Linked DNA regions of Homo sapiens: region 2 is linked to region 1. Evidence: fine-mapped expression QTL. Tissue or cell type: lung. Region 1 holds a variant in brackets; the other region holds the start of a gene. All regions are shown on one strand. Distances are from middle to middle.

The links. PIP is the estimated chance that this variant, and not a neighbour inherited with it, causes the effect.
Region 2: it holds the start of DCK, and the variant in region 1 is fine-mapped to the expression of DCK in lung (GTEx, PIP 0.95).

Annotation. Positions count from the first base shown.
Region 1 is chr4:70,693,108-70,698,368 of GRCh38, reverse strand. No RefSeq gene overlaps it. Among named protein-coding and RNA genes, the nearest start is that of UTP3, 7.2 kb to the right of the region's middle. The variant G/T (reference allele first, on the strand shown) is at 2,133.
Region 2 is chr4:70,991,026-70,996,025 of GRCh38, reverse strand. DCK (deoxycytidine kinase) reads right to left here and starts at 2,377. Exons shown (of 7, transcript NM_000788.3): 1 at 2,100-2,377. The coding sequence starts at 2,190. RefSeq lists an enhancer at 1,952-2,131 and a silencer at 2,302-2,641.

The sequences.
Region 1 (5,261 bases):
GTGACAGAGAGAGACTTCATCTCAAAATAATAATAATGATAATAATGATGTTGCTGAAGATTTCTATGAATGTATCCAGTAATTCTCATGCTCTCTCTTTCTGGTTCTTCTTCTCCTTCTTTTTTTTTTTTTGAGACAGAGCTTTGCTCTTGTTGCCCAGGCTGGAGTGCAGTAGTGTGATCTCGGCTCACTGCAACCTCCACCTTCTGGGTTAAAGCAATTCTCCTGCCTCAGCCTCCAGAGTAGCTGGGATTACAGGCGTGCACCACCATGTCCGGCTAATTTTTGTATTTTTAATGGAGATGGGGTTTCATCATACGGGTCAGGCTGGTCTTGAACTCCTGACCTCAAATGATCCACCTGCCATGGCCTCCCAAAGTGCTGGGATTACAGGCGTGAGTTACTGTGCCCGGCCTGTCCTCTGCGTTAAAGCTTCATCTTTTCTTGCCAGTTATTATTGCAAAGGACTCCTCATTGGTTTCCCTGCCTCTGGTTTTAATCTATTCCAGTTGCCCTGCTCTACAGCAGCTAGAATGAGTAATTTACTTTTCTGAACGTTCACCTAATTATGCCACAACATTTCTTAAAAACCTGGGTTCACTTCTTTATGTGTGGGATACAATCTAAATGCATTAACTACCTAGTAAGGTCTTTCATGATCTAACCCCTTCCTATCTTTCCAATATTATCCTCCTATCTTGTCTTACCCCTTGTTGCCTTTGACTAAGCTTTAACATGTTTGCCATTACTCATATTGCGGTACCCGTTCTTCCTCTCCCAAACTCTACTCAAACAAAGCTGTGATACTTTTTCTGCTCTCCCCATGTAGAAAGGTACATGCCATTTTTGAGGTCTCATAGTACCCTATTTAAGCAGTTAATTGTTTTAATTGTAATGAATTTATGCCTCTTCCCAAATTTAGCATCGTTTTTTCCTCTTTTTACAATGCATAAAAGATTTATTTTTTGTACTATTTGTTCCTTGTACTATTCCTAAGTAGTTATCAGTCCCTCTCACTTATTTTTTATTTTTTTGAGACATGGCCTCACTGTCACCCAGGTAGTGGCACAATCATGGCTCACTGCAGCCTTGACCTCCCAGGCTCAAGTGATCCTCCCACCTCAGCCTCACCACTAGCTGGGACCACAGGCGCACACCACCATGCCCAGCTAATTTTTGTATTTTTAGTAGAGATGGAGTTTCACCCTGTTGCCCAAGCTGGTCTCGAACTCATGTGCTCAAGTGATTTGCCCACCTTGGCCTCCTAAAATTCTGAGTTTACAGGCGTGAGCTACTACGCCCAGCCTCACTTATTTTTAAGACCCTTTCCTCTTAAGATCACATCAAAATTCTTTTTTTCTATCTGTGACCATCAGGTATCCGAATAAAAGCAATTCAAAAAAACTGGACTGAATAAGAAGCTTAAGGAATAACTTATTTAGCTTACATTTATATTTCCCTTTTTATGTATGTTCAAGTGTGGTGTGAATAGAAATATAAGTATGTCTAAAAGAGGTCATTTAATAAATGTGAAAAAATTTTAGGTGCTAATTAAATTCTGCCATCTACTTAATTTGAATAATCCTCACCCCACCATGGCAAAATTGTCTATTATATGTATTAAAACAGGCCATATAAAACAATGCACAAGGGTAAAAGGTACAGCCCTTCTAGCATTAAGTTTTCTTATTTTTTCAGATGGAGTCTCACTCTGTCGCCAGGCTGGAGTGCAGTGGCACGATCTCGGCTCACTGCAACCTCTGCCTCCCGGGTTCAAGTGATTCTCCTGCCTCAACCTCCTGAGTAGCTGAGATTACAGGAGTGCACCACCACGCCCAGCTAATTTCTGTATTTTTAGTAGAGGTGGGGTTTCACCATGTTGGCCAGGATGGTCTTGATCTCCTGATTTCGTGATCTGCCCTCCTCGGCCTCCCAAAGTGCTGGGATTACAGGCGTGAGCCACCACACCCAGGCTAGCATAAAGTTTTGTAACTGAGGTCTATGGACTCCTGGCTTCAGGGAGTCCAGGAACCCACTGTCATATGCAAAATGTGATTAGGACTGTGCTATGGTTCTGGGGTGGGGTGAGGGGAGGCCTACTGTTTTCAAGATTCTCAAGAAGTAGTCCCATG[G/T]TAATGCCACATCATATTTCACTCTTGTAATTAACTTCATTCATATGCCTAATGTTATTAGCTGAGAGAAACCCAGAGCAGTGTTTCTCAAAACATATTCTGTAGACCATTTGGATCAGAATCATGTTGCATGCCTGTTAAAACAGAGATGACTGGATCCAACACCAGGAGAGTTGAATCAGAATCTGTGCAGGTAGGGCACAGGAATCTGTACTTTAAACTTACCAACTGATCCTTGGACATTCTGGTTTAAGAACCATTATGGTTGGCCGGGCACGGTGGCTCACGCCTGTAATCCCAGCACTTTGGGAGGCCGAGGCAGGCAGATCACAACGTCAGGAGATCGAGACCATCCTGGCTAACACGGTGAAACCCTGTTCCTACTAAAAATACAAAAATCAGCTGGGTGTGGTGGCAGGCGCCTGTAGTCCCAGCCACTCAGGAGGCTGAGGCAGGAGAATCACTTGAACCCATGAGGTGGAGGTTGCAGTGAGCCGAGACTGCGCCGCTGAACTCCAGCCTGGGCCACAGAGCGAGACTCCGTCTCAAAAACAAAAACAAACAAACAAAAGAACCATTATGGTAGAACCTAAGAGAAATTAACTCATTCAAGTGGAGTAAATTCGCTTTTTAAGACCGGGTCTCACTCTGCAGCCCAGGCTGGAGTGTAGTGGGGCCATCATGCCTCACTGCAGCCTCCACCTCCTCAGGCACAGGCAGTCCTCCCACCTCAGCCTCCCAAGAAGCTGTTACTACAGGCACGTGTGGTACCATGCCCAGCTAATTTTTTTAATGTTTTATGTGGCCCAGGTTGGTCTTGAACACCTGGGTTCAAGCAGTTCTCCTATCTGAGCCTCTCAAAGTGCTGGGATTATAGGTGTGAGCTACCACACCTGGCTAAATTAGTTTTTTTTTTTTTTTTTTTTTTTTTGAGACGGAGTTTTGCTCTTGTTGCCCAGGCTGGAGTGCAATGGTGCAATCTCGGCTCACCGCAATCTCTACCTCCCGGGTTCAAGCAATTCTCCTGCCTCAGCCTCTGGAGTAGCTGGGATTACAGGCATGCGCCACCATGCCCGGCTAATTTTGTATTTTTAGTAAAGACGGGGTTTCTCCATGTTGGTCAGACTGGTCTCAAACTCCCGACCTCAGTTAATCCACCCACCTCGGCCTCCCAAAGTGCCTGGATTACAGGCATGAGCCACCGCGCCCAGCCAGTTTTTTAAAACTGGATTAAAAAAAATAGTAACGAACATGAAGCACTTACTACCTGTCAAGTGTTCTTCTAAATTGATGTTACATGATTAACCATTTAAACTATTAACTATTATATATTATTCAATGTGAAGAAATTGCAGTACAGAGAGGTTAAGTAGACCAAAGACACATGGTAAGTGGGTGAAACAGGACTTTGAACTCAATCTGGCTCTGGAGGCCAAACTCTTCCCAATCACTTCCCTTTATTGCCTTTTTTTTTTTTTTTTTTTTTTTTTTTGAGACAGCGTTTCACTCTTGTTGCCCAGGCTGGAGTGCAATGGAGCAATCTCGGCTCACCGCAACCTCTGCCTCCCGGGTTCAAGCGATTCTCCTGCCTCAGCCTCCTGAGTAGCCGAGATTACAGGCATGCATCACCACGCTCGGCTAATTTTGTATTTTTAGTAGAGATGGGGGTTTCTCCATGTTGGTCAGGCTGGTCTTGAACTCCCGACCTCAGGTGATCCACCCGCCTCAACCTCCCAAAGTGCTGGATTACAGACGTGAGCCACCACGCCCGGCCCTATTGGCTTTCTTAAAGCAGAACATTTTACTAGTTTCCTCCAGGTCTTTTTGTTTTGTAGTTTAACAAATGTTGATTCTTGATATTTGCTATCATTTAAAACTTCACTTTGTAGCAAATGTAAAATCACTGGTTTTATTTTTTAAGAATAGCTGAAAGAATCAAAATATATCATCTGGAATACATAGCTAAAGTAACTACCAATTAAAAACTCAGCTATGAGAAAATATATCTTAAACAAAATGAAAAAATACAGACTAATATTTGTTGATGGGGGGGGGTATAAAGGTTCTATACTGTTTTTTTCTATTTTTGAGACGTAGTCTTACTCTTGCCCAGGCTTGAGTGCTCACTGCAACCTCTCCCTCCCAGTTTCAAGTGATTCTCCTGCTTCAGCCTCCTGAGTAGCTGGGACTACAGGAGTGCACCACCATGCCCGGCTGATTTTTTTTTTTTCAGTAGAGATGGGGTTTTGCCATGTTGACCAGGCTGGTCTCGAACTCCTGACCTCAAGTGATCTGCCTGCCTGAGCCTCCTGCCGTGCTGGAATTACAGGCATGAGTCACTGTACTCTGCCTGTTTCTGTTTTTTAAACTTTCAAAGGCAAATTATAATTTTGTTTTTAAGAATAAAAAATACAATCTGATTAGCTGAAGCAGCTTTTTTTTTCAGTGTGATTTTTGTTGTTGTTGTTTGAGACAGTCTTGCTCTGTTGCCCAGGCTGGAGTGCAGTGGTACGATCTCAGCTCACCACAACCTCTGCCGCCCGGGTTCAAGCGATTCTCCTGCCTTGGTCTCCTGAGTAGCTGGGACTACAGGCGTGGGCCATCACGCCTGGCTAATTTTTGTATTTTTAGTAGAGATGGGGTTTCACCATGTTGGCCACGTTGGTCTTGAACTCCTGACCTTGTGATCTGCCTGCCTCAGCCTCCCAAAGTGCTGGGATTACAGGCATCAGCCACCGCGCCCGGCCCAGTGTGATTTTAAATTCTAGTTAGAAACATGATTTTTTTTGGTAACATCTATAATTCAGTGTTCCTGTTCAGTACCTGTTCATCATTGTGATCTCCAAGATGTAAAGCATACTAAGTTCCACTTTTCTTGAATTATTCTGGTAATGTTAACTTGTATAATTTAACACGTTAACTTAAAATTATTTTATTTCATAGCAACTCCAGCCATTCCTCAGATATATCAAATATTTTGTGTAAGATACGTGAATCAAATTAATTATTCAAGTTATCTAAGCTAGATTTTATCTTTTAGATCACAAAAAGTAATTTTCCAGTTTGCCAAAAACTTTGACCATTAGGTAGTTCTTAGAGGTCTGAGAAGCGAATAAAATTTACTTCTAC
Region 2 (5,000 bases), 300 kb before region 1:
ACTATGTTGCCATGCTAGTCTCAAACTCCTGGCCTCAAGCAATCCTCCTGCCTCAGCCTCCCAAAGCACTGGGATTACAAGCTTGAGCCACTGGCCAGTAAAATTTTTTTTCAACCTGTGCAGGCCAATATTGTGCAATTGCAGGCTATCAGTTCACAACTACTTTCAGTGTAGGTAAAGGCAAAATCAGTGAAGAATTTTAAGCAGGGGATAACACATGACATTTGCATACAAAAAGACCGTTGCAGAAGTAGTTAAGAGAAACTGGAGATGGGATGATATATTAGGAAATTATTTCAGCTGCTGAAAAGATTAAAGATGCTTTGAGGAAATATTTCTAAATATGATGCTACCTAACTGGATTGGAGAGAGGGAAAGGGGATGAATGTATTGTGGTATTGATCCGAGGGGTTATTCATTCAACTTTACTGTTTTGTTTCTGTGTTTTTAACAGAGTCTTGCTCTGTCACCCAGGCTAGAGTGCAGTAGTGTGATCATGGCTCACTGTGGCCTTGATCTTTGGGCTCAAGCAATCCTCCTGCCTCAGCCTCCTGAGTAGCTGGAGGCACACCAACACATGCAACTAATTTTTTAATTTTTTTGTGGAGATGAGTTCTCACTATGTTGCCCAGGCTGATCTGGAACTCCTGGACTCAAGTGATCCTCTTGCCTAAGCCTCCCCAAATCCTGGGATTACAAGTATGAGCCTCCATGCCCTGCCTCAAATTTACTTTTCAGATGGCTTTGTTCAGCCACTTTCTCCTGTCTTTATATATGGTCTTCTTTATTCAGTAAGCAGCTGTCAGAGATTCCATACTAGTAAACATGCACCCTCAAATAACTTACATTGCTAATTATATCATATGGTCTTTCTACTGGTGCTTTAATTCTGGAGCAATGAAATAAGAAGTCCTCTTTGAGAATGCAGTTTTTCTATTCATTTGAATGCTTAAAGCATCTGCTTGCCTGGCCTTTTTCAAGAAGGTACAGTGCTTTGAATGTGGTAAGAATTTTAAAAAATTTGCTGTATGCATGAATGACCAGCACCCAACCTGGAGCTAAAAAAATTTTTTTTTAAATCTATCAAAACAGGAAGTTTCAGGGGTAGGTTTCCTGTGGTTGGAGATACAGAAGAATCGGACGTTGGTGTGTATCTTGCAAAGTGACAGGCATGGCCTAGTCTGCCCCCCATCTGAGTTAACAGAAACGTTAGTGGTCTTTGAATCATAATCCAATGTTTACTTGGATGTGGAGTAAGGGGTGAGGAACTCCATGCTATTAAGATCATTAAAGACCTCTTTGCTTGTACTCGAATGTTTCGAGTTTCGTTAATAATATAGCTAAAACAATGCTTCGCTAATAATATAGCTAAAAAACTGTAAACAACCCTGAGGTCCACAACTAGAAAATGGATAAACGATGGTACATCCATGCAATGGAATACTACTCAGCAATAAAAAGAAACAAACTACAGACACAAGTAACATGAATGAATTTCAAAAGCATTATGCTAAATGAAAGACGCCAGACACAAAAGGCGATATAGCCTATGATTCCATTTATATGGCATTCTGGAAAAGGCAACACTTGCAGGGATAGAAATCAAATCAGTGGGTGCCAGGGAATAGGAAGGGTGGAGGGGGCTGAATACAAAGGAGCAGGTAGGAACTTTCTAAGGTGATGAAAATGTTCTGTATCTCGATCATGGTGATAGCAAAAGGCATAATGTTTGTCAAACCTCATAGAAGAGTACACCTAAAAAGGGTGAATTTAATGTAAGTTACACCTCAAGAAATCTAATACCCTTCCCCCGCTTCCCTTTGCGAGTTCCCAACAAAGAGGGAGCAGAGGTTCAAAGCGCGCCTCACAGAGACCGCAGGCCTGGCGCCCAGTCTGACCCCGGGGACCGCAGTCACCCCGTGGAGCGGGAGGTAAGGGAAGGATGCTCTGGGTGGGAAAGGAAGCCGAGGCCGCGTCCACACCGCCAGGCTGGAGGGAAAGCCCTCACCGAGTTGCTGCAGAGAGATGCGGCGAAGGGAAGCTTCAGCCACTGCCGCGACACCCCAGCCTTGCGTCCCACATTTCCGGAGGCTCCTTACCGATGTTCCCTTCGATGGAGATTTTCTTGATGCGGGTCCCCTCAGAGCTGGCTGAGAAAGACGGGCAGCTTCTCTTGGGCGGGGTGGCCATTCCTTAGTCTTGTGGCGGCCCAGAGCTCGTCCGGCAAAGAGGGCTGGGAGGCGGCCACGGGTGCGCGCACTGGAGCTCGCGGCGCCGCTAAGCCAGATCCTGACCTGCCGGGTCAGCTAGTGAGCTCACCGGCCCGCCGGCGGGTGTCGGGGTTTGACTTTGGCGCGCGGAGGCAGCTGAGGACACTGGCGGGCCTGCGGGGCGGCCCCGCCCTCCTCAAGCCGCGCTCCCTAGCTGCCCCTCGGCCCTCGCCCGCCTCCAGCGCGGGTTCCCGCGTGCGCGCTCCGCACGCCAGGTCACGTGAAGGCCGGGGCGGGGCCGCGCGTGTGGCGGAAGGCCTCTACCCCAAGCAGCCAGGCGCCCGGGCAGGGCGCGGGAAGAGGTTCCGGAGTCGGGTGGGGAGGAAGGGTGGACCCCAGAGGCCTGAGGGCGCTGGAGGGCAGAGGGCGTCACCTGCAGTGGGCCGTGCCAGGCTTTGGAAAACCCGCCTCTCTAGTGGGCCTGTTGGAGATGAACAGACGCGTCTGGACAGAACTGGATAGACTTAAAGCTTTGAACTCATCTGGGGAGAAGGCACTGTGTGGTAGGAAAATCAAATGGATTTACTCTGGCTTCTCAGCCTAGAGGAAGACTATCAGGCGAAGTGCCGTCCTTGGGAATCGCACTGCCCACTTAGAGAGCCAGGCTGTTTTCTTCTATGTGCTTTTCATTAATTAACGAAGTCTAGTGCCAGAAATACCGTCATTAGCCCATTTACCTGCCAGTGGGAAAACAGGCACTGAGAGGCTGCTTGTTCCAAGTGTCAAAGTCAGTAAGTGAAACTGGGATGGGAATTTAGGTAGTCAGATGCCACCCACAGGAGGCCTTTCCAGATCTCCCATACCGCTTTCCATTTGATTTGGATGCACGACCATGCTGTATAGAAGTTAGCACGTTGGGTAGGTAGGTTTCTGTTCAGCTGTTAACTCAGCCTGCCCGACACCTGGCACATAGGTAACAAAATGTACTGTATGTTGAATTTTTGAATGCCTACTCATGTGCCATGTACTCTGCTAGAATACTCATCTAGATGGGACAAATGCAGTGTAGGATTTGTCCCAGCTAGATGAGTGCATTTTTAGTCAGGGTAAAGACCTAATGAGGCAAGAGAATAGGGAATTAGGGTAACCAAGGGTTAAGGCATAAGCAAAAGAACAGCAGGTGCAGCAATTTCTAGGCAAGACTAGGCAGCATACAGGCCACACCTTCACTCCTGTGATTACAAGACAGAAGTTTCCACATCGCCTCTGATTGTCCTCGGCCATCTCCATTTCAGCCTCTGATTGGTCGCAGGCCAATCCTTCATAGGGTGCAACCAATTGGACGACTGTAAAGGGCACCTAGGGATTTACCAAATTCTTTTAGCCTAGTAACCCTTAAGAACACTGCAATTGGGACTCTTGAAGCACTTGGTTCGCTTCAATAAATTTGTGCTTTTGTTACTTCGTTCTTTTGTTGTTTTGTCTTTCGTTGCTTCTTTTGTTGCTTTGTTTCTACGTTTTGTTCAATTCTTTGTTCAACACGCCAAAAACCCAGACAACTCAGTCAAGACTTCCCATCCAGTAACACTAATAAACCGGATATTACCCAGTCTGGAAGTTATCTGGTCCAAATTGTCTACAGAAACCAAAGGCCTTGCTATTCTTTTTTACATTGCAACTATCATCAGACCTGAAATGCATCTAAATGTGTAGCCAGAAGGGGAAAACGGTGACTCCATCCTCAGAAATAAAGAGCAGAAATTAAAATGTGAATCCTCGGGGATCACATTTTCCAGGATTAAACAGCAAGAATCATTCTATGTAACTGCCCTATATTATTCTGTTATGCAATTATTTTGTATATATTACTTTTACTTATCCCTATAGTGATTAATAGCAAGATCCTAGGAATATAAGAGGCCTGAAGAGTTGTCATCAGGTATAGCAAGGAAGTTGGGAGAAAGGTGCTGCGGAAGCTAATAGGTATCACATTTCACAGCCAAGCTTGGGGGAAAACTCATGAAATGGTAAGAGTACTGGCAGCTACCGAGAGGAGGAAGGCAAGTCTCTTGAGACCTTCAACAGGAAAGCAGAGCTGGTCCTGGATGGATGTCATAAAGAGGCTTGGGGTTAAGGAGTAGAAATCTCCAAGTGTGGTTTCCACAAAAAAGACCCACACAAGAAGTATCTTACAATGATGAAGAGTTTAAGCACTGGAAAATGAAAGATTTCAAACACCAGTTCTACCAGTTTCTGGCTGCAAAAACTTGAATTCATCTGAGCTTAAGAGTATACTTTGAAAAATACAAATGTGGGAGGCCGAGGCAGGTGAATCGCTTGAGCCCAGGAGTTTGAGACTAGCCTGGGCAACATGGCAAAACTCTTGTCTCTACAAAAAATAGAAAAATTAGCCAGGCGCCTGTAGTCCCAACTATTTGGGAGGCTGAGGTGGGAGAATTACCGAAGCCAGGGAGTCAAGGCTGCAGTGAGCCAAGATCATGCCACTGTACTCCAGTGAGATCCTGTCTCAACTAACAACAACAAAGTAAATGGGGGAAGCAAAGAATCTAGCTTTTTTGGCATTAAGTCCAGCATAATTTCCCATTTTCCTACATGACCTGGGGGTAACACAAGGAGAGAACAGAGAAAAGCACTTTTCAAAACATCTTGATTTTTGGTCCACAATCTCTTATCTAAAACCCTGGCAGCCAGATGTTTCAGAATTTAAAACTTTTAGAAAAGATTTTTAGAAAAGAAATTCTAAACTTTGGAACTGGCTGGACGCAGTGG